4 linked regions of the Homo sapiens genome follow. The protein of the gene in region 3 purifies or fractionates together with the protein of the main gene of each other region. This does not show direct contact. Each region holds a gene or a part of one and is shown on either strand. Other genes may lie near its edges. The genes, in order: SPR, ACO2, GATD3 and CLIC4.

Region 1 (7,177 bases), on a different chromosome or scaffold from region 3:
GATCGTGCCACTGCACTCCAGCCTAGGCAACAGAGTGAGACTCCATCTCAACAAACAAACAAATAAACAAACAAAAACATCACTGGGATCACAACATTCCTCCGCTCAAAACCCCTCAACAGCTTCCCAGTAGCCTGGCCTAATACTCAAGGCATCCTAGTCTGCCCTCCTCTGGGCACACCTACTCTACAGGCAAACTGAAGACCTGCCACGCCCACAGTGAGCCTTCGCACCTTTATTTCCTTTCATCAGGAATGCCTTCCATCTGCCAACAACCAAGGTCAATGTCCAGTTCAGCTACCTCCAATAAAGCCATCTCTAGTCTCCCCACCTAAAGGAATTGTTCCCTTCTTGAACTGTTGCAAGCACGTTCTATTCTTCACATAGGAATCACTCATGCACCCCAATATTTGCAGTTAATGGTCCTCGAGGGCAGAACATCAGAGAATTCCAGGGTTGGAGGGAGAATTTATCTCCTGGTCCTTGACTATTTTCCAATGACCTGTGCATCCCTGCTGAGAGAGGACTTGCTGCCTTTCCAAACAGCCCATTCCATCTCTGAGCACCTGTTAGAACATTCTTCCTGAGACCGAAATGAAAACCAGACTGGCCTCTGCCTTGGTTCAGGCCCTGGGGACCTCCTGAAAATCTCAGCTCCCTCATAATGCCCAGGGCAGCCTCCTGAGACCAAACGCAGCCATGTGGACTTCTGGAGTCTGCTCTGCTCCTGGTTGTAGCTTACATTTGGTCACTGTTGTTTGTGCGAATCCTTGGGCTGAATTCAGAGTGGATGATGAGTTGAATGTTGGTTGTGAGAATAATTGTGCATGTGTGTTGGGGGGCAGGGGTGGTAGGGGCTGGGGTACTGGAGAACATGAGGAAGAACTTGAAAGCAAGGTGGGATCCAGCCCTGCCACATCTGTGCTTTGTGCAGGCCATTCTACCTGTCTGCCCTGGGAGCCTGACCCTATTCCCCAGGGACACAGGCTACTGGATTTCTGCCCAAGTTGCTCAGGCTTTCCATGGCTGCTCTGTCACCACCTTCTGATTGCAGCAACCTCAAGCCTAAAAGAGACTCCTCACTATTAAGACAGGGGCGCTGTGGCATCAGAAACTAGACCCAGTATCACAAGACTCCCTGTCCTTTGGCGTTCATGAGAGCAAGGGATCTATTCTATTTATCCCAGAATCCTCAATAGTGTTCCAGCACAGTTCAGCCAGGGATGGTCAGCACTCAACAAAGTCTGTCTGCTCTCCATACAGCTAGCATGTCCTGCAGCTTGCCTTAGTGTAGTGCTTTGCTAGGTGTTAGGAACACACATCTGCATAGTGCAAAGGCTTTCCTGTCAAGGGAGGGAAGGAGGCAAGCAAACATATGCAGACAATACAGTGTGGTCAGTCCTATTTAACAATGAGGCAACACTTCACAGGTCAGGGTCATTTTCACATACAGTATCTCATTCAGTCTTCCCAAGTGCCCTGTGAGGCAGGGAGCGTCTTCCCCATTTCACATGAGGAAGGCCTGGAACTCAAACCCCAGTCTTCTCCCAAACTCCATCTAATACCTCAGACCTTCCTGCCCCACCCTCCAGTCCAGGAAACTCCTCACTCTCTACCAGTATCCCCGGCCCCTGCCACCTCTATTTCCCCTGGGTCTGTATTTCCCCTAAGGGGTGATGGGTCAAGATTCAAGGACAAAATCCTGTGGGTTGTTTCCTGGAGGGGGCGGACTAGGCCGCTTGCCCAGCCCCCAGAGGCGCACCAGTGGGTTCTGGAGGACAGGGACGGCAGGACTTCCCACCTACCTGGGGCATAGTTCAGCACCCTCACATTAGGTTCCTCCAGCGCCAGGACCTGGAACAGCATATCACGAGCAGCCTTTCCTGCACAGTACAGCGCCCAGCCTTTGAAAGGTTGCAGGGCACAGAGGGACGAGATGTTAACCACGGTTCTGTTGAGGCCAGGACTGTCCGGGAAGGCCTTCAGGACGCTGGAAGTCAGGCAGAGCATGGAGGTCAAGTTCAGTGCCCAGTAGTTGTTCACTTGAGTGGAGTCACTCAGGTCCACGAAGCCTTTGGACACATCCCCAAGAGAGCCTGAAAAACCAACCCTTAGGAGTAACTCAGTGCAGGCGGGGCTTTCTTCTTCCCCAGCCCTCCCAAGTTCCTCCAGATATCCTCTTCCCATGCAGACCTAGAGGAGGAAGCTGCCTAGCGCTTCTGAAGAGGCTTCTCTCTTCCCCAGCTCTGCGGAAAGACACAGCTGGGGAACCTAGCCATCCCAAGCTGCAGAATGAGAAGGCACCTGCCTTGCCGTGGGGCTGAAGGAAAGCTCTAGCGGTCCTTTGGAGAAGCAGAGAGTTTACTTGTTTGGAGACTCCAAGCCCTGACTCAGGCCTCCGCCAGAGGGCGCAGAGCAAGGGGCTCGGGAAAGTTCTACAGGCGCTTTGGAAAACCCGGCTGGCCAATTTTCCAGGAAGTGGGGGCAGACTGTTGTCCCGACGGCACCGAGTCTTCCTGTACACCTCGCCTCCACTTGCTACTCAAGCTGGAACAACTAGGGCTTTAGATTTCTAGGCGTCCTATCTGACCCCTAGGAGTAGCCCTTAAATTCCCCAGCGGTGGAGGAAGTGGGCGCTCACATGGGGAGTCCGCTCCAGCCCCGGGGTCTTACCCGCGTTGTTGATAAGCAGCAGTCGCTGCAGCCCCTTGGGCCGGGGGAGCTCGCGCAGGGCGCCGAGCAGCTGCTGCAAGCCGGCCTCGGCGCCCAGGTCGGCGGGCACCCGCACCACGCGCAGGCCAGACCGCTCGGCGCCCAGCTCGGCCTCCAGCTGGCGCAGTGCCTCGTCGTTGCGGGCGCTAAGGACAAGCACGGAGCCGGGCGACAGCAGCGAGGCCAGGAGCGGGGCCAGCGTCCGGCCGAAGCCGCGGGAGGCCCCGGTCAGCAAGCACACAGCACGCCCCAGCCCGCCCTCCATGCTCCTGTTCTCCGCCGGCGGCGCTGGCACCCGAGACCAGGCAGGAGGCGGTGCGGCCGCGGGGGGCGGGACCGCTACGGGTGTCGGCGGGGCCGCCCTGCCGGGGCGGGGCGGGAACCTCAGGCTTCGGGCCGCGAGCGCCCAGGGGTGCTGGTTCCCTTGGGATCTGGTTCCCTTGGTTGCTGGTGGCGGAAGTCAAACCGTGGCGGTAGCCCAGTCCGTGCCAAGTGGGACAACAGAGAGGGCCGGCAGGCGCGGCCCACACGGAAAGCCCTAGCCCGGTTCCCAGCGCTGCCGTGTTCTTCGCCCGCAAGCTCAGCCTCCGGCTGGGACGCATGCTCGAATTTCCTCCCAGTTCCAGCCCTAACTTTGCACTACTGACCTCTTCCAGGGCAGGCCCTGCACTGGGTGCTGGGCGTCCCTGGTCGTGGCCAGTGAACACCCTGAATGAAGCTTATGCCTGTTTAGGAATTGAAGTCTCTGCTTGTTTGGGAGCTCACCGCTCTCTGGATGACAGGAGCTTCCTCTGGGAGAACCACAGTGGCTCCAAATGATATTAAAACCTTTCCCTTTTACTAGGCCCTGAGCAGCTCCGTGATCCCACCAGTAACCCCTGCTTCTCTGAGATTTCTGACTCCTGTCCCTAAAAGTGTGTTCCCCAGGATTCTGCTCCTGCTCATGCTACAGTCTCCCTGGCAGCAATTCCATCCACTTTCAGCTTCAAGTTTGCGCAATCATCTGTCTGTACCTCCAGGCAGGTGCTTCAGAAAAATCCACATTTTTTTTTTTCTAGGAGAGGAGGAACGTGAGACAAGTTGGCATGCAGCTACATATATTAAAAAGGAATCTCTTCATGGTTTCCTTCTTAGTGGCCGAGTGGTATTCCATTGTGTATATACATATGTCCAAATATTGTGTGTCAGTTTTTAAAAAACGAATCTCTTTAGAGTTTAGCAAGGGCAGTAAGTAACCTCTGATAACTTAGCCCAATTCCCCACAGGGCTGATCCCTCCCCTGGGGCTAAACAGCAAAGTTACCGCCTTTCCACTATTATTGCCAACTCTAAGGAAGAAACAACTTGGAGGAAGGCTTTTTTCTTTTCTTTTTTCTTTTTTTTGACAGAGTCTCGCTCTGTGGCCCAAACTGAAGTGCAGAGGTGTGATCACAGTTTACTGCAGCCTTGAATTCTTGGGCTCAAGCAATCCTTCCACCTCAGGCTCCTGAGTAGCTAGGATTACAGGTGCGCACCACCACGCCTGGCTAATTGTTTTTTAAGCTTTTGGTATTTTAACGCTGATAAGACTCTGTATATGTGTATACCATTTGAAGTTGCCCTGCTTTTCACTTACCTATTCACACTGAAGATAAAGATCTCATTGGCCCAACAGCTTACTATTTAAAGAATTTTAATAGCTTCTCCCTGCTCTCCAGGCCTTAGAAGACAGGTTGATGAAAGCACGATCCCATCCATCCATTCATTTGACATTTGTTAAATTTCTACCATTTGCCAGATTTTTGAAGAAAAGGAGGGAACAATGAAGGGATGGCAAAAAATCAGACCTAGACTCTTCTGAACCTAGCTGCTTCTAGGAGGAACCACTTGGGAACAGCCCCTAAGGAGAACGTGGTTTTCCTATACTAGGAGAGGGTCTGGAAAATTCTTCTTTTCTGAGGAAGATGATTATCTGCTCTCGCTAATTTTTGTGTTTTTTTATAGAGATGGCTCTTGCTGTGTTGCCCAGTGTGGTCTTGAACTGGACTCAAGCAGTTCTCCCATCTCAGCCTCCCAAAGTGCAGGGATTATAGGTGTGAGCCACCCCACCTGGCCAACAGTAACTCTTTTAAAAAGATACAAATGCCTGAAAGGTAAGAAATGTGTAAAAATTGTGTTAAAAACATAAGCCTGATAAAGGACATGGGTAGGGGAATGGGTGAAATTTGAATAAGGTCTGTAGGTTAGTTATTGGCATTGAATCATTTCCTGACTTTGACCAGTGAACTATTGTTATATCAGAGAGTGTTCTTGTTTTTGGAAGTACACAGAAGTATTTAGTAAAGGGGCATCATATCTGCAACTTACTTTCAAATGTTTCAGAAAAAAATTAGAATGAATAAGGCAAAGGTAAAATGTTAACATTTAGGAAATCTGCATTAAAAGTATTCAGGAATTCTTTATACTATTCTTGCAACTTTGTAAAAGTCTGAAATTATTTCTAAATAACAAAGTTTTTGAAATGAGTCATACTTTGGGAGGCTGAGGCAGGTGGATCACCTGAGGTCAGGAGTTCAAGACCAGCCTGGCCAACATGGTGAAAGCCTGTCTCTACTAAAAATATGAAAATTAGCTGAGCGTGGTGGCGTATACCTGTAGTCCCAGCTACTCAGGAGGCTCAGGCAGGAGAATTGCTTGAACCCAGGAGGCAGAAGTTGCAGTGAGCCAATATCTCACAACTGCACTCCAGCCTGCGTGACAGAGCAAGACTCCACCTCAAAAAAAAAAAAAAAAAAAAGCCATACTTATAAGTCAAAAGTAAAATGAAAAAGTGAGCAAAGTATATGAACAGACATTTATCCAAAGAAATTACACAAATGGTCAATAAGCACATAGAAAGATATTCAACATAATTTGCCATCAGGGAAATACAAATCAAAATTACGATAAGATACCACTTCATATCCATTAAGATGGCTAAAATAAAACAGACAGATAATAAATATTGGCAGGTTATATGATTTGGCTGTGTCCCCATCCAAATCTCATCTTGAATTATATTTCCCATGTGTTACAATTCCCATGTGTCATGGGAGAGACCCAGTGGAAGGTTAATTGAATCATGGGGGCGGGTCTTTCCCATACTCTTCTCATGATAGTGAATAAGTCTCATGAGATCTGATGGTTTTATAAGTGAGAGTTCCCCTACACAAGCTCTCTCTTGCCTGCTGCCATGTAAGATGCGCCTTTCACCCTTCACCTACCACTATGATTGTAAGGCCTCCCCAGACATTAATGGAACTGTGTTAATTAATGGAATGGAATTAACTGTGTTAATTAATGGAATCCACAGATTAATGGAACTGTGATTCCATTAATCCTCTTTTTCTTTATAAATTACCCAGCCCCAGGTATGTCTTTATCAGCAGTGGGCAAATGGACTAATACAGTAAATTGGTACTGAGAGTGGGGTACTGCTGTAATGATACCTTAAAATGTGGAAGTGACTTTGGAACCGGGTAACAGGCAGAGGTTGGAACAGTTTGGAGGGCTCAGAATATAAGAAATTGTGGGAAGGTTTGGAACTTCCTAGAGGCTTGTTGAATGGCTTTGACCAAAATGTTGATAGTGATATGGACAATAAGGTCCAGGCTGAGGTGGTCTCAGATGGAGATGAGAAACTTGTTGGGATTCACAGGATTCAAGTAGACATGTCTTTAGAGGTTGGGGAGGGGAGACACACAACTCAATCAACTAGGTGTGTGATAGAGAAGCAGGGCTTCCTCATTAAGAAATTTGCTAGACTATTGAGCCCCCAATCTTGGCTTTTCACCAAATTTGAAAAGCTTATTTTTGAGAGATACACACAAAGGAAGCACCAAACACATTTCAATGGATACATTTATGAAGACACTGTTTCTGTCATCCCAGTCATCACTTTAATGGCATGGAAGTTACTGGAGTGAGTAAAGCTTTTTGAAAAGCTTGGGAACAATAAGACTTCATGTAGCTCATGGGCTTTCTGGGCACATTTGAGTAAAGGGAAAAGGACTGGGAAGGATAAGCACACAGGGAACAAAGGTGTATTTGATAAAGGATGGCAATGAAGTGATCCTGGGCAGGGTTAGGAAAGCAGGCTTTCGTCCCTGCAGCGGCACTCCAACTTCAGGAGGTCCATGCTGGACAGCTCCCGTCTTTTACTAGTAGGTTGAAAGAAAGGAAAAGACAGCCAGGGTCCCTCTGCTTTCCTCTCTGCCAAGACTGAGCTTTTCATTACCCTCCCAAACTCATCTTTTCTTTATTGCTTCCTTTGCTCTGGGATTTCTCAATAATCTGTCACCTGGTGACAGCTGCTTTATGCGTATTTAGTTTCATTCATTCATTTATTTATGCATTCAATAACTATTTATTCTATTTATTGAGTGCCTACCAAGTACCAGGCTTTGAAGAGACCACATTCATGCTACTTATAGGTGCTGGAGATACAT
Region 2 (7,021 bases), on a different chromosome or scaffold from region 3:
CCCAAGAGATGAGACCTTTGGACCTTAGAGTCTGCTAGGCAGATGCTTGTCCTGAGGCAGAGGCCCTGGGGTTTCTGTAAGATTTCTGGGAGCACTGGTGGGTCCTGAGAGTTCACAGAGCCTGTCACACCTCTCATGTGTTCTTCCCCACATCCCCGGGTGGGGCACTAACTCCATCTGACTGATGAGCGGCAGAACCTCAGGTGAAGGCTCTTGCTGCAAAACAATAAATAAAAATGTTGCTTCCCGCAGGCACTATTCTGTGCCTCATGGACAGGATCTCATCCAGTCATCAGTGAACCAATGATGTGAGCACGATTGTTAGCTATTTCTTGATAGGGAAACTGAGCTCCGAGAGAAGTGACTTGTCCATGGTCCCACAACAACTAGTAGATGGTGGGGCCAGACCTCAGACCCCCCGATACAGGACGCCTGGCTCAGGGCTTGCCAAGCAGTGTCCTGCAGCTTCAGGGGGCCAGTGCCTCAGAGGTGCCTGGTGCCTGGGCCACACTTGGGTGTTGAGCCTATACAGCACCCAAGGTGTTGAGCACTTGGGTGTTGAGGTGTTGCTGCCTTTCTTACCAAATGTTTTGGGGGAAGTGCTCCCCACGGCTGGGAGGAGCGCCTCAGTGAAGGGAGTACTGTGAAATGGGACAGGTGATGAGGCAGGGTGGCATCGCGCCTTGAGCAAGTCACATGGGTTCTCAGAGCCACCTCCAGATGCTGAAGTGGACGAGGCATCACCTATTCTTTGCAGTTGAGGAAAAGTTCATAGCTTTGTGTACCCACTGGGGCCTCCCAGGACTTCTTCCTCAGGGGCCTTGTGGGGCTGGAGCCAGCTCCTGGAAGAACCACCAACCCCGATGAGAAGCCAGGTGGGGATGCTCCACACCCAGGATGAGGCCGGGCCTGGGCCCATCACAGGACAGTTTCTCTGGTTCTTGTCACATCCTGGGGTCATGGTGGTATGGGTGTTTGGTTACTGTGCTACAAATGAGGAAACTGAGGCATGGGGCAGCATTCAAAGGCCCAAGACATATAGCAGGAAATATCAGAGCTATTCAAGAGCCCAGGCCACCTGTCTCCCAAGGCTCTGGCTCTTCTTGGCCACCCTGGAGACGGCCTGGATTAAATGGGGCTGCTCCTACCAGTTCCATCCTGGGAGAGTGGCTGGACGTGGTTGGGAGGCCCCGGGTCAGTGGGGCCATTTTTTGGTATTCTCGGCTGAGGGCTTCTAAATATAACATCTTGGATTATTTTTCAGATTATTCTGGAAAACTATGCGTACCCTGGTGTTCTTCTGATTGGCACTGACTCCCACACCCCCAATGGTGGCGGCCTTGGGGGCATCTGCATTGGAGTTGGGGGTGCCGATGCTGTGGATGTCATGGCTGGGATCCCCTGGGAGCTGAAGTGCCCCAAGGTGAGGGTGGGGAGGGACTCATTCTGGGCTGGCTGTGGGGTGGTGGTTGGTGGGGATGAACGGGAGACGGTGGGACCCAGGAGGGAAAAGGGAACAAGTTAGACTCGAATCTTCTGGGAGGGAGGTAGAGACCAATAAGCAGCAATGTGAATGGCAGCAGGGCCATCCTGACTTCGTGGCTGGCACAGGCACACACGGCCTCTCACAGCCGCCTCGCCCCCTCCTGTCCAGGTGATTGGCGTGAAGCTGACGGGCTCTCTCTCCGGTTGGTCCTCACCCAAAGATGTGATCCTGAAGGTGGCAGGCATCCTCACGGTGAAAGGTGGCACAGGTGCAATCGTGGAATACCACGGGCCTGGTGTAGACTCCATCTCCTGCACTGGTGAGGAAGGCGGCCAGGCGACGTGGCCCCTACCCTGTGCTGGGCCTGATGGGTCTCCAGTTGGGAGTAGAAGCGGTGAATGGCCTTCACTTGAGAATCTGTCTGTTCCATTTGGGGACTTGGGATAGACAGAGGTAGAAGGAAAATTGGAGACAGCATTAGAGATTGTCTAGTCCACATCCTCATTAAACAGATGAAGAGATTGAGATACCTGTCGAGGCTGCCGGTGACTTCCTAACTGTGTGGCCACACACGGTTAGGAGCCAAGTCAGCTTCTGCTGCTGGGCCCAGGCCATAGCACTAGGCCACCTTGGGTGATCTAGACGAATCCAGAGAGGACAGAGGCAGTGGTGGGAATGGGCAGAGCCAGGGCTTCATTCATGAAGCAGCTGCAGGCCCACATCCTCCCTTCGCTGAAGTTCGAGCCTCACTCACTTCCCTTGGATTAGAGATCGGTGCCTGTCCGCCTCCAAGACCAGGTAGGAGCCAGCTGCTCCCTGCCTGTCACTCCTGGTGACCTGGCCTGGATGCCTGGTCCTCAGAAATCCAGGGAGATTTGTAACAGTCTAGACTTCCCAGGTGCCTGCCTGGGCTCCCTGGCAGCCCTGCAGAACTCTGGTTCCCCTGCAGTGATGGGGGCTCACTCCTGCCACGGGACTGCTCAGTCAGGACGTTGGTAACAGGCCCATACCTCCGTCCTAGTGGCTCCTGAGGCAGGTGGCCTGGTAGCAGCTGCAGTACCTGTGAGCCCCACCAGTTCTGTGACGCTTTGTGGTCCAGACAGTGTGTATCATTTCAGTTTTTGTTTTTGTTCTTGTTTTTTGAGACAGAGTCTAACTCTGTCGCCCAGGCTGGAATGCAGTGGTGCAATCTCGGCTCACTACAACCTCCGCCTCCTGGGTTCAAGCAATTCTCCGGTCTCAGCCTCCTGAGTAGCTGGGATTACAGGTGTGCACCATGATGCCTGGCTAATTTTTTTTGTATTTTTTTTTAGTAGAGATGGGTTTTCACCATGTTGGCCAGGCTGGTCTCAAACTCCTGACCTCAGGTGATCCACCCACCTCGGCCTCCATCACTGGAAAACTTGAGACACAGAAAAGTGTCTCCACCATGGTATGGCTGAAGGAGGGCAGGCCACCAGGCAGACAGACCAAGATCCGAATGTCAGCATCTACCTTTATGTGCTTTATGGCATGACCTTGAATCTCTCTGAGCCAGTTCCTCCCCTGCCAAAAAGAATAGCAACTGGGCAGTGTCTGGTCAGGTCAGCCTACAGTACGTGGTGCCTGTTCAATCTCTTGGGCGACAGTCAGGCCCCAAGCTCGCAGCTCAGTGTGTGGGGGCTGAATCTTCACCTGAGTCCTCTTCATTCTACCCAGCAGCCACCCTGAGCTGGGGCCCTGAGCTCTGATCCCCATGGCCTCCCCTCACCGGCCCAGGTTTTTACCCAGGGCCTCAAGGGATGAGTCGGCCCGCTGTCACCACATCTCTCTGAGTGGGAGGAGAAGCAATGCAGCTCCCTGGTGTGAAGATGCAGGTGGCCGCGTAGCAGGTGTGTGGGACCCTGGCCCGGCCACCAGCCAATGCCCGGGGCTCTGTTGCTCCACAGGCATGGCGACAATCTGCAACATGGGTGCAGAAATTGGGGCCACCACTTCCGTGTTCCCTTACAACCACAGGATGAAGAAGTACCTGAGCAAGACCGGCCGGGAAGGTGAGCTGGCAGGGGCAGGCCCGTGTGGGTGGAACAGTCACATGCCCGCTCCTCCCCAAGACAGAGCTATGCCTTTCCCTGTAGGGCAGGGGTTCTTAACCCATTGTCTCCAGACAGGCGTCCGAGGCTCTGAGAAAGCCCTGAAGAGGTGCAATATGTTTCTGAGTAGATTGTCTGGAGCTCTCTCCAGCTTCTCAAAGGGCCTGGCATCTGAGTTCAAGATAGCCCCACCTCAGGATGGGCATTTCATTTTCCCTGGAAGGTGGCTGAATGCCCGCCCTTCTCGGCCTGGTCCCTGCTGCCCCCTACAGGAAACTCCGGAAATGACATGGATCGCTTCTGTTGATAATTCCTGACCTAGCAGGGGAACATTTGGAAGGAGAACCACTTTCCCAGCCTCCCCTGACAACTTCCCTGAGGCTCTAGCCTGGCTTCTTTGGAGCTCAGAGGGCATTGGCACCTGTGAAGGGTGGTGCGTTGTGGGAGTGAACGAGGAGCCAGAGACCAGGGGCCATGGGGAGAGCCGTAAGCACGTGGAATCCTTGGAAGGCTCCTCCCTTTCCTTATTGAGTGACTGCTTCTTCAAAACCCAGCTCTTCACTTCCAGGACACCCTCCCCGGCTCTGAACCTTAGCTGGCGCTCCTCCTCTGTGTCTCCGTGTCCCTGACAGCTCCTGCACTAGGGTGTGAGCTCTGTAAGGGCAGAGACAGCAGCCTTGGTTTCTTCATTGGCCTAGTCAGTGCCCAGGGTGGGCCTGGTGTTTGGCAGGTGCTCAGGTGGGTGGTGAGTGAACTCTCAAGAACAGTTTATGTTTCACGTGCTCCATCCCCGTCCCTTGTTGATTTCAGACATTGCCAATCTAGCTGATGAATTCAAGGATCACTTGGTGCCTGACCCTGGCTGCCATTATGACCAACTAATTGAAATTAACCTCAGTGAGGTGAGGAGACAATTAACTGGGTTCAAGAAGTTTCTGAGAGTAGTGGGGAGCAGGGCGGGTCCTGCCTAAATACTCACTGAGGGCCGGGTGGTGGCTCACAGCTGTAATCCCAGCACTTTGGGAGGCCAAGGCAGGTGGGTCAGTTGAGGTCAGCAGTTCAAGACCAGCCTGTCCAACATAGTGAAACCCCGTCTCTACTAAAAAAAAAAAAAAAAATACAAAAATTAGCTCGGCATAGTGCCATGTGCCTATAATCCCAGCTATTCAGGAGGCTGAGGCAAGATAATCGCTTGAACCCGGGACGCAGAGGTTGCAGTCAGCCGAGATCGCACCACTGCACTCCAGCCTGGGCGACAGAGCGACACTGTCTCAAAAACAAAACAAGAAAAACCTCAGGGTGACTCGTGGGCCCCTGGGTCCCCAGTGTTCCTGCAAACTGCTTCCTGAAGCAGCCTGGAGCAGTGGGTGGGGAGGGGGGAGACACAGCCACGGGGAGAGCAGAGGTAGCTCTGGCTGCTGAACCAGAAGTGGATGTCAGTTTGCCACCAGCTCAGCTTTAGGAGAAGCCAAGGTTTCACCCTGAAGGGTTTTTGTTATCTGAGTTCAGAGGGCAAATCCCAGCAGGGTTAGGCACCCTGAGACGCACAGATCAGAGCAGGTGTTTGCAGAGCCAGAGGAAGGGCAGGCTAGAGGATCCCGTCTGCAGGAGTTCACACCTCGGCTCTGCCACTTAAGTTGTGTGGCCTTGGTCACGCACTTAGCCTCTGTAGGCCCCTTGCTCCATCACGTGTGGAACCTACAGCAGTCGTGAGGATTGAATGAATTCATGTAACTAACACTGACGGAGGTTTACTGCATGCTGCGCACATAGCTGAGTGCCTCGCATTTACTGATGATTATGATATGTAAAGCGTCTGGCCTTAAGTCCATTTTTGTCATGATTCCAAAAGCGGCCGGGCATGGTGGCTGACACCTGTAATCCCAGCACTTTGGGAGGCCGAGGCGGGCAGATCATGAGGTCAGGAGATTGAGACCATCCTGGCTAATGTGATGAAACCCCGTCTCTACTAAAAAAATACAAAAAAATTAGCCAGACGTGGTGGCGGGCGCCTGTAGTCCCAGCTACTCGGGAGGCTGAGGCAGAAGAATGGTGTGAACCCGAGAGGCGGAGGCTGCCGTGAGCCAAGATCGTGCCACTGCACTCCAGCCTGGGCAGCAGAGCGAGACTCCATCTCAAAAAAAAAAAAAAGATTCCAAAAGCAACATCGAATGGGAGATAATGAACTTAGGAAGCTGACAGCCTTGATCCATTCCATGCCTCTGCTGTCTCCTAGCTATGTGACTTCAAGCACAGCATGTCACTTCTGAGCTTCAGTTCCTTCATCTGCAGAGCTGAGCCCAGCCTTGCAGGGCTGGAGGGAGCCCGGGAGCGGGTGTGTGCAGAGCCAACTGCTCAGTTCTTCCCTGTGATGAGGTTTCAGTCAAGAGAAAGTCGTTGGCCTCTCTGTGGGGACGTGGTGAGGCAGTGAAAGAGGCTGTCCCCGCTTCAAGGTTTCTTCCCTCCTCTCTTTCTTCTCCTTGCATGTTTGTTTCTTCAGCTGAAGCCACACATCAATGGGCCCTTCACCCCTGACCTGGCTCACCCTGTGGCAGAAGTGGGCAAGGTGGCAGAGAAGGAAGGATGGCCTCTGGACATCCGAGTGGGTGAGCACCTTCCACCCCATCTGTTTAGCAGGTCTCAGGGCCAGTGGCTCTGCCCAGGGCTGTAGACAATCACCTATGCCTACTGTGTGGCACTTTCTAAGGTGGGCAGTTTCTGAAATGGGTTTATTATTGAAAAATTACTTTTTCGGCCAGAAGTGGTGGCTCATGCTTGAAATCCCAGCATTTCAGGAGGCCAATGCAGGTGGATTACTTGAGTCTAGGGGTTCAAGACCAGCCTGGGCAACATGGAAAAACCCCGTCTCTTAAAAGAAAATGCAAAAATTGGCCAGGGGCAGTGGCTCACACCTGTAATCCCAGCACTTTGGGAGGCCGAGATGGGTGGATCATGAGGTCAGGAGATCGAGACCATCCTGGCTAACACGGTGAAACCCCATCTCTACTAAAAATACAAAAAATTAGCCAGGGGTGGTGGCAGGCACCTGTAGCCCCAGCTACTTGGGAGGCTGAGGCAGGAGAATCGCTTGAACCCAGGAGGCGGAGGTTGCAATGAACCGAGATTGTGTCACTGCACTCCAGCCTGGGTGACAGAGCGAGGCTCCGTCTCAGAAAAAAAAAAAAAAATTGGCCAGGTGTGGAGGCGCATGCCTATAGTCCTAGCTACTCAGGAGGCTAAGGTGGGAGGATCACTTGAGTCCTGGAGGTCAAGGCTACAGTGAGCCGAGATGGTACCACTGCATTCCAGCCTGGGCAACAAAGGCAGACTCAAAACTGCAGACTCAAGCAACAGAGCCTGCCTCCAAAAAAAAAAAAAAAAAAAAAAAAGAAAGAAAAGAAAAATTACTTTTTCTTGGCAGAAAAGAAAAATATGTTTATTGTAGAGAATATTCACAATCAAG
Region 3 (7,016 bases):
GAGTGCAGTGGCGTGATCTCGGCACATTGCAACCTCTGCCTCCCAGGTTCAAGCAATTCTCCTGCCTCAGCCTCCCAAGTAGCTGTGGTTACAGGCACACGCCACCACCCCCAGCTAATTTTTGTATTTTTAGTAGAGACAGGGTTTCACCTTGTTGGCCAGGCTGGTCTGAAACTCCTGACCTCAGGTGATCTGCCTGCCTCTGCCTCTCAAACAAAGTGCTGGGATTATAGGTATGAGCCACCATACCCGGCCCAGCTCCTTTAGATTTATTCCCTCTTATGGGATGTTTTTAGAGTTCACGTAAGTGCATTGTTCCTTGGACCTCCTGTCTAGGCGTTCACTGCCAATCTGTAGGGTTGCCATTGGCTGTCAGGAAGAGTCCTGCACAGAGGGTCCTGTGCCCTGCAGATGCGATGGGGCGCTTCCTTCCTTTCTCATCCATTTATCTTTCAGTTCTCCTTTCCTATGTAAAGTGATGGTGGCATCACTTTTCTCCTTTATTCCATTAACTCAGAAAATTAACTGATTCAGAGCGTGCCTTCCTCCCCTCTCGCTCCACAACACCACATAGCTCTGCAGCGGTCTCTTCCTAAGTGTTTGGTGGAACTTGCTGGTGAAGCCATCTAGATTGGGCCCAGCGGAAGGGCTGAGCTGCCAGGATGACCCCAAAGGGATGGGATGTTACAGTTGGGTCCTTGGGTCCTTGAAGGCCTTTGCTGCCCCAGGGCTGGATGGGGCAGAACCAGATTGTTGGGGCAGGGAAAAGAGGAAAAAAATGGCTGCTGGGGTGGAGGAACCGGCATGTCCAGCCCCTGCTGCTTTTCTCAGGGGTCACAGAGGAGGTGGTTGGGTGCAGGACAGGCCAGGGCCTGGGCGTTGCTGGCATTGACCATCCCTGTGTGATTGACAGCTGTAGCTGGAACCACTATAACATGCAGTACGCACTAGCAGTTTCCAAGCAGCGGGGCACAAAACGCTCCCTAGACCCGCTGGGAAGTGAGGAGGAGGCAGAAGCATCTGAAGATGACAGCCTGCATCTGCTTGGAGGAGGAGGCAGAGACTCAGAAGAAGAGATGCTGGCCTAGAGCCAGCCGGTTGCAGCGTTGGATTGTGCCGGCTAAGACCTGCCAGGGAGATGGGACCCTTGTGCCACCTGGGCCAGCAAAGAGGAGGGGTCCAGAGAACAGCTGAAATACTGTCACTAGTGGTAGTGACTTGCTTTTCCTGTGCACACATGTAGCCCATCAGGACAGCGAGCCGACGGGTCACGCCAGGGGCCGGCACGCACTGGCACCTGGCCCCAGGAGCGGGGCCGTGTGAACGGTGATGAATGTTGAAAATGCGTCTCAGAGAGGTATTCACATGAACTTTGTATGAGACTTATTTATATCTTTAACATAAAGGTTTGATAAAGAACTTAGGGATTAAAAAAAAGATGGAGTTTTCTAACGTGAGGATGAAGTCTACACTTCAGATTAAAAAGGGTTATGTTGTATCCTGCTGTCTTGTGGGGGCTCAAGACCTGCCTGCCTTACCACCAGGGCCTCCGTCCTGGGGAAGCAGGCTGACAGAGCAGGGTGCTCCTGCTGTCTAGCGGGGGCTCTGCCTTGTGACCTGTGCATATCCTTGGGGTCAGGGGCACAGAGCCTCTCCCTGACCTCTTGGGGATGCTTTGGAGTCTGGGGCTGGGATTGGCCTGTCTTGGTGAGCTCACTCAGACCTGCACCAGCTCTGCGTGGGCCACACGGAGGAGGAGACAGCTCCTCCCCTCTGCAGTGCCCTTGGGAATAGTCATCATGAGAGAGGCTTGGGTCTCCATCATGGTAGGGCATCCTGGTCCCCACAGCTCAGTAACAGCAGCCTCCAGGGTCAGGACCTGAGGCTGACACTGAGGTGGGCACTTCACCGACTGCCAGTGCTGTCTGCCAGGCCCAGCCTGTCCCTCGCCAGCGGTGTGGCCCCCAAGACCCTGGGTAGTACCTGGCTCCCTTGCTTATCTGGGAAGTGGAGCTGATATCTGCCTGCCGGCCTCCCGGGGGTGGCGTGAGGCCAGATGTGCTAGAGAGTGGAGATGAATACGACAGGCAGTGCCTTGTGGCCCACAGCACTGTACCTGCAGGCCTGCAGACCAGAGGTCTTTGTAGAAGGGAGGAGCTCAGGCCCTGATGACACCAGGTGTTCTGTGGCTGCACAATCTCCGTGACCCAGACGAGAGAGAATCCTTAGCTATCGCCTACCCAAAGCACAAGTTCCAGTGTTCCCCTCCCTTGCCTCGCCCTTTTCCGTGAAACAATTTCCAGCGTTCCCCCTCCTCGCCTCACCCTTTTCTGTGTCACATGTGCATGGCGATGGACACCTGAGTAGTCGCCCCTGGGACAACTGGAGCTGCGGCTCTGCAGTGGGGTCTGGGAGCTCCCGGCCAGGGGCAGCTCCCGCACACTTGGTAGAGACAGGGTCCTGGCCCCCACACCGACTGAGTGAGAGTCTGCATTCGGCATTTCCTTTCTGAGTGGCGCTTGGTGTTTTTTTGTGCCATCCCACAACCCCATCGCTCCCACCAGCTGATGCTCCCTGGCTGGCCGCTCCCCAGGAGCTGAGAAGCCTGAAGAGGGCCAGGCACGGAGGAGCAGGAACGAGGACAGTCAAATGTGCCAAGCTTGTCTTTGGTTGTAACTGGTAATGTCCCATGTCTGTTATTCTAGTTCCCCACTATCTTGCAAGGATTGGCAGTAAAGTCCTAGTGATGGACAACGCGGCAGTGGGGAAAGTGACAGCCGTGGCTAGATCATCAGATGTGTCTGTAGAATCCGGTGTGTCCCTGTGAACATCCGCCAGCAGTAACCATTCACATTATTTCAAAAACCTGCATTATTAGGTTGAAAATGGGTAAATCGGGGAAAAAGCCAGCACTTATCCAGCTATTCCTCTGTGAACTAACCCATGCATAACAAACAGATTTTTTTAATGGAAGAATTCCAGCTAGGACCCGAGCAGCTGGGATCTTCACACTGACCGTCCATGCTGTGAACGTAAAAAACAAAAACAAAAAAACAAACCCAAACAGCGCCCGGGAATGGTGGCTCACGCCTGTAATCCCAGCACTTTGGGAGTCCGAGGCGGGCAGATCACCTGAGCTCGGGAGTTCAAGACCAGCCAGACCAACATGGAGAAACCCCGTCTCTACTAAAAATACAAAATTAGCCTGGCGTGGTGGCGCATGCCTGTAGTCCCAGCTACTTGGGAGGCTGAGGCAGAAGAGTCGCTTGAACCTGGGAGGCGGAGGTTGCGTTGAGCCGACTTCGCGCCATTGCACTCCAGCCCGGGCAACAAGAGGGAAACTCCGTCTCAAAAAAAAAAAAAAAAAAACCCAAACAGAATCGGCGGCTCACTTGCCCCCAGACTAACCCAGATCAAGCCCCTGGGTGGAACTGCAGTTTCCAGGATACAACATCCCGGGGTCAGTAAAACCCGGAGGGGTCGCTCCGTGGGAGCCGGAGCCGCGAGGAGACAGTCATGGAAGCGGAGGGGTAGTCCTGACCCCGCGTGGGTCCTGACGCCGAGATTAAGACGAGTGGCCATTTAGGAGGATGTGGACCCTGGACGCTCGTGGTGAGTTAAGGATGAGACGGAGGTAAGGTAAGAAGCGCCGGACTGAGCCGCCCCGAGGCAGCCTTGCTCTGCGGATGGCGGAAAGGGTGCGCCGCCTGTGGAGGCGTCCGATGGGGGCGGGGCTGGGGACCCCGGGAGTCACCAGCATCCCTCAGCCTCGAGCACGAGCCCTCAGCCACCACCGGAAGGAAGACAGGGTTCCCGGAACTCTATTCGGAGGCTCTGCGCAGGCGCGGCCCCCGCCCACCGGCGAACTCACTGGATAGGGCTGAGACGGGGGCGGGTCTTGGCTCCGCCCAGAAGGCTGCGCAGGCGCAGTCCCGACGAGCAACGCGTTTGTAGAGGGGTGGGTGCGCACGCTCTGTCCCTGCGTGACCTTCCGACCCCGCTGTCCTCACCGCAATGGCGGCTGTGAGGGTCCTGGTGGCCTCGAGGCTCGCTGCGGCATCTGCATTCACGTCCCTGTCCCCCGGCGGTCGGACGCCTTCCCAGCGCGCAGCCCTTCACCTCTCCGTGCCGCGCCCCGCGGCCAGGGTCGCGCTGGTGAGTGGACGGAGGGGGTGAGGTCAGCTCCCGCCTCCAGAGATCAGCCTTCGCTGTTCTCTGCCCAAGGTCGGCCCCTCTTCCTAGGTCCGCTCCCGCCGCCCCACGTCGGCTCCTTCACCCCAAGTCAGCTCCTGCGGCCCAGGTCGGCCCCATTTTCCCGGGTCAGCGCCCGCGGCCCAGGTCGGCCCCTTTCCCCCCAGTCAACTCCCGCCGCCCAGGTCGGCCCCTTTCCCCCGGGTCAGCTCCCGCTCCTCTCGCAGGTGCTGTCTGGATGCGGAGTCTACGATGGGACCGAGATCCACGAGGCCTCGGCGTAAGTCCTCAGGGGCAGCTGGTCCTCCACCCCGGGGGCCTCGAGAAGGCCTCTCCACCAGTGAAGTTTACTCTTTTTTGAACAGCTTAGAGAAAGCATGTATTTTATTTTATTTTTACTTTTTGTCTTTTGAGACAGCGCCCAGTCTGGAGTGCAATGGCGCGATCTTGGCTCACTGCGGCCTCCGCCTCCTGGGTTCAAGCGATTCTCCTGCCTCAGCCTTCCGAGTAGCTGGGACTACAAGCATGCACCACCACACCCAACTAATTTGTGTATTTTTGGTAGATACGGAGTTTCACCATGTTGGCCAGGCTGGTCTCAAACTCCTGACCTCAAGTGATCCTCCCGCTTTGGCCTCCCAAAGTGCTGGGATTACAGGCATGAGCCACTGCACCCGGCCGAGAGAGCTTGTATTTTAAATACCCTATTCTTGGCTAAAAAAAAGCAAAAACGACTTGCAAAACCCAGGGAGACGCTAAGAAAGAACAGTTTTTAAGTGTCGCTTATGCTGTCACCTAGAGCCTAGAAATGACTTAGCATTTCACTTGAGTGTTTTTCAGGACACACACATTTTGAAAACACTGAGATCACACTCACCCGTGTTTTGCAAATGTTTCTGACGCATGGGAAGTAATTCCCATTCATTCAGTTCTCAACATCATTTTAACAGTTGCGTGGTATTTCTGGGTCCTAGACAGGTTACTGTTTACGTAACTGGTCAGCTGTTGCTGAGTGCTTGGTGGCCTGATTTCCTGTGCTACTGGAAATGACTGCAGGCCGAACCAGTAGGGCAGGAGGCCACCACGCGTGCCAGGTACCTGTAGTTCCCATGTGGTTCAGGGTGAACTGGAGAGGGGAGAGCTGGGTGGTGGCGAAAGGGGTGTCAGGCCATGGAGAGTGGCCTGAGGCTGGTGGCTTTGTGGGTGGCCCACCTTGGCTGGTTGGAGTTGGCACTAGGCAGAGTGAGCTGGGGGAAAGGGCCAGGATGTGTTTCATGATTTGGCCTTGGTGGGATAGAAAATAGCCCCAGAATAGCTTGAGCCCTCCCAGGCAGAACGGCAGGGTCTTGTGTCTGGGGTGTCTGGGTGGATTTCTTATGGGTAGCGGAACCCAAGTGCCAGGGCCAGGTGCTGACCTCTCCCTCTGGCAAGTCACTGCACTTCATGCCTCGGTTTCCTCCTCCACGTAAGGGGCAGTGAGGGCTTAGTGTGTGGGTGGGCTTAGCCACCTATCTCCTGTTGGCACTGGGAGTTGCGGATGCCAGCGTGAGCCCCCATAATGTCAGCTGTTGTCCCCAGGAGGAGCTTCTGTTGCCCTTGCCCTTGGGGAGATGGAGCTGCCTGGCCTGTGGTGTTGTCCTGGGGTCTCTTGTGTCTCTCCCACCATCTGTGATGGGAAAGTTGAGGGAGACTAGAAATTGAACTAAGTAGTGACCGAAAGCCCCGTCACACCGTCTGTGCACGTGGCACTCTGAGCACACTGCTGCTTCTCACTCTTGGTGCTTGCAGCAAGCAACTGGAGGAGGGCAGCCAGGCCCTGGGTGTAGGTAGAGCACTCAGCAGCCGGGGACCCGCACGCCTCCAGGCTGTGCCCTCAGTGGAGTCACCCGGCCCCCATACCCCAGTTTGCAAAGGGAGCTGTTGGGACCAGCTGATCTCCATAGCCCACTTCTGAGGGTTTGTCATAGTCGTAACCCACCAACCGACAGTGAATTGGAATGGGGGTGTGGGGGACGTTTGGCTTGGTATGGAACCAACTGTAACTTTTTGCAGAGCAAGTAAGATATTAATATACATTAGGAATTTGCTCCTGGTACTTAGCTAAAATCCTGTTTTTAAAAATGTGTTAACACAAATCTGAGTGGGGCACGTTTTGAAGAGTTGTCTCTGGTTTTCCCCCGTGCAGGATCCTGGTGCACCTGAGCCGTGGAGGGGCTGAAGTCCAGATCTTTGCTCCTGACGTCCCTCAGATGCACGTGATTGACCACACCAAGGGGCAGCCGTCCGAAGGCGAGAGCAGGTGTGGGGGTGGGATTGGAACTTGCTTCTTGTCTACCTCCCACGGTGCAGCCTTTTTTTGCTGGCTTAGCTTAAACCAAGTCTTGTGTGCAAATGAACGTCCTTCTGAGCAGCTGTGCTCGGGCTGTTCCAGAAGTAATGCTGCCAAGGCTCAGGAGTGCCTTCCTTCCAGTACTCACAGAAGGACTGAAAATGGCGACCGGATCGCTTCCCACTGAGTCAGGCTGCTCATACCTTGGTCTTAAGCAAAGGTGGTGGTTCTCAGCTTGGTCGCCCACCTTCTTCCCCTGTCTGGGCTCCAGATCTGTTTTGCTGGTTCCCAGCAGCATGTCTGTTACTGCGGTGTGTGTGGTTCTGGCCTGTGTGGCCTGAGATCCCCTTCCCTTGCCTGTCCTGCCTGACAGCCCTGTGCAGGCCATTCCAAGGTGCCTTCCAACTGGCCTCGGACCACGAGAGGTCGGAGCTGGAGATTCGAGGAAGAAGCCATAGCTGCCTCCTGGGGCTGTGCTTCTCACCAGTGGGGACCC
Region 4 (7,721 bases), on a different chromosome or scaffold from region 3:
CAGGAGTTTGAGACCAGTCTGGCCAACATGGCAAAACCCCGTCTCTACTAAAAGTACAAAAATTAGCCAGGTGTGGTGGCACATGCCTGTAATCCCAGCTACTTGAGAGGCTGGGACATGAGAATCACTTGAACCTGGGAGGTGGAGGTTGCAGTGAGATGAGATTGTGCCACTACACTTCAACCTGGGCGACAGAGTGAGACTCCGTCTCAAAAAAAATAAAAATAAATATAAATAAATAAATAAATAAATCAAGCCTTGCAAGACCATGATGAATAAATATGATTGGATATGAAAGCACCCAGCTAGGTGTCTGGCATGCAGTGTGAGAGCTCAGTGACCGGTCAAGAATATGGACAGATGGGAATAATACCAACAGCTAGTGTCTACAGAGCACTTACAATCCAAGCTCTTAACATAGACTAATTTATCAATGATCCTATTAAATATTAATAGGTACTAATTTTAGATCCATGTTTACAGACGAGAAAATGGTACTAATTTAGATCCATTTTTACTGATGAGAAAATGAAGCACAGAGAGGTTAAGTAAGTATCCTGAGTTAGTAAATAACAGAAGCAGGATTGGAACCCAGGCAGTCTGGCCCCAGAGTCCATGTGCATAGCAGCTCATTCTGCTGCTGAAATTGCAGAACTTTGGGCTGAGACAGTCAGCGAGCAGCACCACAGAGTTAGAAGTGGGAGGAGGAAAGTGTCATCAAGGGAGGCTTACTGGAGGAAAACCTGACCCCCTGTGTAGGGGCAGTCATAAACACAAACCACCTGGCTTCCCAGACTGGAAGAGCGTGACAATCCAAATGTCATGTCAGGGGTACATGAAACCATAGGATAAACATGGTACAGTCACTCACTCCATAAGCTATTTTTTTTTTTTTTTGAGACAGAGTTTCGCTCTTGTTGTCCAGGCTGGAGTGCAATGGCGCAATCTCGGCTTACTGCAACCTCTGCCTCCCAGGTTCAAGCGATTCTCCTGCCTCAGCCTCCCAAGTAGCTGGGATTGCAGGCATGCACCACCATGCCTGGCTAATTTTTTGTATTTTTAGTGGAGACGGGGTTTCTCCATGTTGGTCAGGCTGGTCTCGAACTCCCGACCTCAGGTGATCCATCCGCCTTGGCCTCCCAAAATCCTGGGATTATAGGCGTGAGCCACTGCGCCCGGCCCACTCCATAAATTTTTATTGTGTACCATGAGCTGTCCTCTGAGCCAGGAATATAGCCATAAACAAAACCAAACAAAAAATCCCTGCCCTTATGGCATTTATGTTCTAGTGGGAGAAGACAGACAATAAGCAGATAAATAGGTAGATATGTATCAGAGGGTTGTAAGTGTTATGAAGAGAGATAAAGTGGAGGGTGGAGTGAAAGATAGCAACTTGCAACGTTGCATAGGGTGGTATTTGGGGAGAGCGCTCTGAGAAGATGACATTTGAGCAAAGAGCCAAAGGAAGTAAGGGAGTGGGAGTTGCAGAAATTCTGGGGGAAGAATGTTCCAGAGAGGGGGAAGAGCAAATGCAAAGGCCCTGAGGCCACAGTGTGCTTCGCATATCCAAGGACTAGAAAGGAGGCCAGTGAAGCTGGGGTGGAGAGCACAGGGGAGAATGGTAGGAGATGAGGTCAGAGGGGTGTGTGTGGGAGGAGACAACATGTCTCCACCCATCTTAAAGATTTCTGTGTGCTATAAAAACAAGCCTGAGTAAAGAATGTAAAGCAGGCATGCAATTCAAAATTCGAAGAGGAGACTTGACTGCTATGTGGTTAGGGGGCCTCCCCTGCATAAACATCCTCTTTCCCTTTCACCCACTCCCAGGACTGACTGCCCATCCATGGGAGCCATATGAGGGCGGAACTTGGGAAACTGTAGGTGTGACTGAGACTACGTCTAAGCACAGGCTCTGGGTCTGAGCCTCTTCCTGGGGGGCTTCCTGTTGGGTAGGAGGAGCCCAGGAGATCATCACCACCTCAGGGCTCTGTGGAGAATGCCCCTGGCTTCCTCCTAGCTAAGATCTCTGTTTAGTCAATGAAGCCTAAAGGGCCCTGGTCTGTTCCTCCTTCCATACCCTGGTGCTGTGAGGCCAGTTGGAGCCTGTGAAGGGCAAGTCACCACCGGGAATATTTGCTGCCTCTAACTCAAATTCTTTTTTTTTGAGATGGATTTCGCTCTGTCGCCCAGGCTGGAGTACAGTGGCGTGATCTCGGCTCACAGCCACCTTTGCCTCCCCGGTTCAAGCGATTCTCCTGCCTCAGCCTCCCGAGTAGCTAGGATTACAGGCATGTGCCACCACACCCGGCTAATTTTTGTATTTTTAGTAAAGATGGGGTTTCGCCATGCTGGCCAGGCTGGTCTCGAACTCCTGACCTCAGGTGATCCACTCGCCTCGGTCTCCCAACGTGTTGGGATTACAGGCATGAGCCACTGTGCCCGGCCTCAATTTGATCAATTCTCAGGTACATTGAGTTTCTGCTGAATTGTTTTTTGGCTTAGATCTGCTTTGAACTGATTCACCATTTGGTTCCTTTTTGGTAGGGCAGAGAGGGTGGATTCTGGAAGGAAACTTTGCTTCAGTTCATGATTCTATGAAAAATTAACACGGTTCAGTCCAGAGTCTAGTCAGTCACTTCAGGATTTTCATGGTTCAAGCCCCCATCTAAGGGGAGCCTCCTGGAATTTATTTATTTATTTTCAACGAACTAGCCGGGCATAGAGAGAGTAGAATATGATGCCACATTCTAGCCTGCAGGGGTGGTAGGGACAGAATAAGTCTCAATGCAGTTAACAGCCATACTGACGGAGCAGCACATATGGTAAGGCAAGAATCAGTAATTAGCCCCACCCACTTCTAGATAATGAAACTGAGGCTTAGGGGTTTTAAGGACACTGCCTTGTCAGATTTGAACTTAAACAGTCAGACTACAGAGCACGTGTTCCTGACCACTGGGATACACTGGCTCTTTCACAGAGCCTCTGTGAGAAAATTTGAGCAACTTACTTTGGGCTGGCAGAGGAAGAAATTGCAAGTTTCACTGTATTTTCATGCCTACGTACAATTTGTTCAAACATTCTGGTATGTGCTAGGCACCGAGGATATGGAGACAAACCTCCCATGTCTGGGCCTCCTGGAACTCACTATTTATCCCAACCTGGGAAGTTGGGAGGAGTAGCTGTGAGTCAAGTATTATGGAAAGTCAGAAAAGGGCACAAGTAATTGTTTCCAGAGGAGGTGAAACTTGCCCCAGGCACTCAACAGCAGCAAACTAGGACCAGGTGCCTACAATCTCAAGGCAAGCACAGCTCTTGCCCTCGGGGGCTTAAATCCCAGGGCAGTTTAACTGGTTTGCGGACCACCTACTTCAGAATTGTCCTGGTGCTTGCTAAGATGTGGATTTCTCTTTTTCCCAGAGGATCTGGGAAACACAAAAAGCGGGGCTGCGTGTAGCACCTAGGTGATTCTGATGCACACTCAAATTTGACAGGTGAGCCGGGGGGAAGAAATGGGTGTGGGCAGTGGGGAACAAGATGGACAACGACTTGGAAGTCCTTAGTGGCCTGCAGGCACTGAGATTGCAGTTCAAGATCTTGAGCTTTGGGAGTTGTTACTCTCCAAGGGCTAGCTCAGAGCCTGAAACACAGTAAGGTTTCATAAATATTTGTGAATATGCGCCCGGCGCGGTGGCTCACGCCTGTAATCCCAGCACTTTGGGAGGCCGAGGCGGGCGGATCACGAGGTCAGGAGATCGAGACCATCCTGACTAACACGGTGAAACCCCGTCTCTACTAAAAATACAAAAATTAGCCGGGCGCGGTGGCGGGTGCCTGTAGTCCCAGCTACTTGGGAGGCTGAGGCAGGAGAATGGCGTGAACCCGGGGCAGAGTTTGCAGTGAGCCGAGATCGCGCCACTGCACTCCAGCCTAGGCGATAGAGCCAGACTCCGTCTCAAAAAAAAAAAAAAAAAAAATATATATATATATATATATATTTGTGAATATGCTGGCTGCCAAGATCGAAACGATCAGGAGCGTCAAAGGGAAAAACGAAGTCAGAGGCAGAAGAAAAAGGTGTTCCCCAGGCGATGAAAACTTTCCAGTAAGTTGTCTTGGAAAAGGCAACTCCGCGTAATAGAGGGACTTGGGGAGGTAGCCGCTGCGGGAAAGGGCGATGAGTCCTGGGGTGCTGCAGCGGGGGAGTGGGTAGGAGGCGCCTCCTAGCTTCCCCAGGGCGGCCGAGGCATGAGGTCACCTGGCACAGCAACAGCAGCAGCTGCGGAGGACGCGCAGGCGCTGCGGCGGGAGGCAGTGTCAGGCTCGGGCCCCTGGGGAATTCCTCCCCTCCTTTCCCCCCCGCACCAGTCCCCTAGAGAGGCGTACCCGGGTCCCGCCCGCCAGAGCCTGAGCTTTGTACCGCCCACCAAGGCCACGCCCCCTACCAGCTGTGGGGCGCCGCAGAGGTCCTTTCTTCGGCTCCGGAGCGGTCCCTCCGCCTTCCCCGCTCGAGGCCACGCCCCCGTGCTCCTGCCGCCTTATTTTCCCCGGAGAGTCCCGAGGCGCCGCGCCTTGGCCCTGCCTACAGCCCGAGGCCCCGCCCCCGGCGCCCCTCCCAGCCGTTTGAAGCGGCTCGGGCTGCGGCTGGCTCAGAGTGGCGCGGGGGGCGTGGGGCGGTGCTGAGGAGCTGAAGCCGTGGCCAGCTCGACGCCGGACAGTCCAGCGAGCAGCACGGCGGGAACCGGCAGCCGGAGCAGTCCCGGAGCAGAAGCAGCAGCAGCAGCAGCAGCCCTCGCCGTTCGCGGAGCGCAGCCGAGCCGGCCATGGCGTTGTCGATGCCGCTGAATGGGCTGAAGGAGGAGGACAAAGAGCCCCTCATCGAGCTCTTCGTCAAGGTGAGCGCTCGCCTCGCGGTCCCGCCCGGCAGATCCCCCGGCTCCCTCCCGGCTGCGGGGAGCGGCGTCCCGGGGCTCTCCTGAGGCGCCCCCGCTCGGCGCCAGCACCCGTCCCGCTGCGGGCACCCGCGCCCCCGGCCCATTGTCTGGGGGCCGCCCGCGCCTTCCCGCCTCCGAGGGCCCGTCGAGGGGTCCGGGTTGGGGACCCGGGCGGCGGCCACCGTCTCCAGCGCGTAGGCATCGGCGGACGCCAGACCAGCGTCCCGCGCCCGGGTGGGTCGGGAAGAGCCCACGGGCGGGACTTGCCTGCCCCGGGGCCCCAGCGCCGGGCGCGCGCGGGTCCTGTCACCACCCCCCGCCCGGGCGCCGGGGCCCGGCCCCACCCGCTCCCCAGCGCTCCGGTCCGCCGCCCGGAGCCCGAACTGCGGCCCGCCGCCCGATGAGCTTTCAAACGAACTTCTTTGAACGCGTTTTTGAAAAAGCATTTGCTCCCCACTGGTCTGAAACGGAAACTTTAATTTTCGATGCAATCTTAAACAAATTTACCAAAGAGCAGGTGCTCTTGGACCTTCGGAAAAGACCGAGATTCCCAACTTGTGTTTTTCTGTCTTGGGCATTTACTGGCTTTCTCGTTTCTCAAGCGCGGAGTGTTCTGTATGATGCAACATTTTGGCTTCTCCCCCCGGCGTTGCTGCTTCGGGAAGGATTGTGTGTGCCCTTTTGTTTTGAAAGAAATTGAGGGAGAGAATTCTTAACTTGCTTGGGCTTTAAAGGGTTGGTTTTCCCTTGTGTCTTCAGCTTTCATGTGTGGAATTTATTTGCTTACACATACTACCCCTCTTCCTTTGCTTTTCTCTTTAATACTTTTTATTTTAGCAAAGGAGAGAGTCGAAGTTATAAACATCTGGATCCAGCTCCTTCCCTCAAAACTTAAAAAAAACACTTTGAGCTTCTTCCAGCCACTTAAAAAGCCAGGCTCATTCAGAGCTAGGCAACATACCGGAAAGTAAATGGTCATCTAGAACTATTGGGTTCTTTTTTTTCCCCGAGTTTTTACTTTAAAGAAAGGACATTTCAGGATGTGTTTAAGAGATAGAGAAGGGCTGGGCGCGGTGGCTCATGCCTGTAATCGCAGCACTTTCGGAGGCCGAGGTGGGAGGATTACTTGAGTCCAGCCTGAACAAGATGGCGAAACCCTGTCTCTACAAAAAAATTCAAAAATTAGCTGGGAGCGATGTTACGCGCCTGTACTACTCTGGAGGCTGCGGTGGGAGAACTGCTTGAGCCCGGGAGGTCGAGGCTGCAGTGAGCCACGTCGCACCACTGCATTCCAGCCTGGGCGACAGAGCAAGACCCTGTCTCAAACAAAAGAGATGGAGAGAAGAAATAATCTGCATTTACCTCTGCAGTCTTCAGTAATGACTGGAACAGTGTTTGCCTTAGGATTTTCTTTCAATTGTCAATTTTCGATTTTTTTTTTTTTTTTTTTTTTGGTCCAGGGAACTGAAACAGCAGACAGGTATAGAACCCCCAAAATATCAAAGCGTTTCGGTTACTTTGAGTGGCAGATATAGTACTTTGAGATGCGTAGAATGTAGGAAGGAACCTGAAATACAAGAAAGGAAGGAGGCCGGGCGCGGTGGCTCACGCCTGTAATCCCAGCACTTTGGGAGGCTGAGGTGGGCAGATCACGAGGTCAGGAGATCGAGACCATCCTGGCCAACATGGTGAAACCCCATCTCTACTAAAAATACAAAAATTAGCTGGGCGTGGTGGCGCGTGCCTGTAGTCCCAGCTACTCGGGAGGCTGAGGCAGGAGAATTGCTTGAACCCGGGAGGCAGAGGTTGTGGTGTGCGGAGATTGCGCCACTGTACTCCAGCCTGGGCAACAGAGTAAGACTCCATCTCAAAAAAAAAAAAAAAAAAGAAAGAAAGGAAGGGTGGTGGGTGGAAAACAGCATGGAGAAGGGAAACAAGTGGGCCAGAGATGAGTTAAAAAAAATTTTTACTGAGTGAGGAATAGGAAGGAATTTCCATAAACTCAAAAAAAGTGCATCCATGAATAATCTGTAAAACATGATACTTAACGGTGAAACTTTAGAACAGTATTAAACTTAGAATAAGCTACTATCGGGCCGGGTGAGGTGACTCACACCTGTAGCATTTTGGGATGCCGAGATGGGGAGATCACTTGAGGCCAGGAGTTCGAGACCAGCCTGGCCAACATGGTGAAACCCTGTCTCTACTAAAAATAGAAAAATTAGCCAGGCATGGTGGTGGGCCCAGCTATTCGGGAGGCTGAGGCATGAGAATCGCTTGAACCGGGGAGGCAAAGGTTGGAGTGAGCCAAGATCAAGTCACTGCACTCCAGCCTGGGCGACAGAGTGAGACTTCGTCTCAAAAAAAAAAAAAAAAAGATAAAGCTATTATCAGTTATGGCTCTATTCAGTATTCTATTATTCTATTGGAGGAGCTAATCAAAGAAGACAAGAAAAATTAAGTATCTGAATTAGGAAGAGATCAGTGATTAATGCCCTGCTTACTATTAATTTCATCTTTCAGTTAGAATAGCAGAGGGGCGTGTGCAGTTTTCCAAACTTGAGTCACTTGCATCCCCTTTCTGTTTTTCATATTTGTGTTGAGAACCACTGAAAATCATCCTTCCTACCACTAGTTGTAAGCCTTTCTCATTGGGCTTGGTGGCAGAGAATCAGGGTTCAAGTCACAGTTCTTTACTCCTTGGTTGGGTGACCCTAGGCAGTTTGTTTTCACTCTTTAAGCCTTGTTTGTCTCATTTGTGAAATAAGAAATGTTTTCTGCTACCCAGTG

Evidence for each region.
Region 1: the proteins of GATD3 (region 3) and SPR fractionate together in Homo sapiens (co-fractionation; 2 studies listed by BioGRID). This does not show direct contact.
Region 2: the proteins of GATD3 (region 3) and ACO2 fractionate together in Homo sapiens (co-fractionation; 2 studies listed by BioGRID). This does not show direct contact.
Region 4: the proteins of GATD3 (region 3) and CLIC4 purify together in Homo sapiens (co-immunoprecipitation; 2 studies listed by BioGRID and IntAct, with this or other methods). This does not show direct contact.

Annotation. Positions count from the first base shown.
Region 1 is NC_000002.12:72,883,233-72,890,409, reverse strand, and holds the start of SPR (sepiapterin reductase), read right to left. Parts: upstream 3,003-7,177; 5' UTR 2,978-3,002; coding exon 2,674-2,977; intron 2,097-2,673; coding exon 1,806-2,096; intron 1-1,805. UniProt on the Homo sapiens protein: Catalyzes the final one or two reductions in tetra-hydrobiopterin biosynthesis to form 5,6,7,8-tetrahydrobiopterin.
Region 2 is NC_000022.11:41,514,113-41,521,133, forward strand, and holds part of ACO2 (aconitate hydratase, mitochondrial precursor), read left to right. Parts: intron 1-1,264; coding exon 1,265-1,423; intron 1,424-1,654; coding exon 1,655-1,805; intron 1,806-3,414; coding exon 3,415-3,519; intron 3,520-4,368; coding exon 4,369-4,460; intron 4,461-6,058; coding exon 6,059-6,164; intron 6,165-7,021. UniProt on the Homo sapiens protein: Catalyzes the isomerization of citrate to isocitrate via cis-aconitate.
Region 3 is NC_000021.9:44,129,684-44,136,699, forward strand, and holds the start of GATD3 (glutamine amidotransferase-like class 1 domain-containing protein 3, mitochondrial isoform 1 precursor), read left to right. Parts: upstream 1-3,999; 5' UTR 4,000-4,014; coding exon 4,015-4,155; intron 4,156-4,418; coding exon 4,419-4,471; intron 4,472-5,226; exon of another isoform or gene 5,227-5,285; intron 5,286-6,376; coding exon 6,377-6,490; intron 6,491-7,016. Other genes in the region: PWP2 (periodic tryptophan protein 2 homolog), read left to right, coding at 914-1,088.
Region 4 is NC_000001.11:24,740,734-24,748,454, forward strand, and holds the start of CLIC4 (chloride intracellular channel protein 4), read left to right. Parts: upstream 1-4,713; 5' UTR 4,714-4,820; coding exon 4,821-4,892; intron 4,893-7,721. UniProt on the Homo sapiens protein: In the soluble state, catalyzes glutaredoxin-like thiol disulfide exchange reactions with reduced glutathione as electron donor. Can insert into membranes and form voltage-dependent multi-ion conductive channels.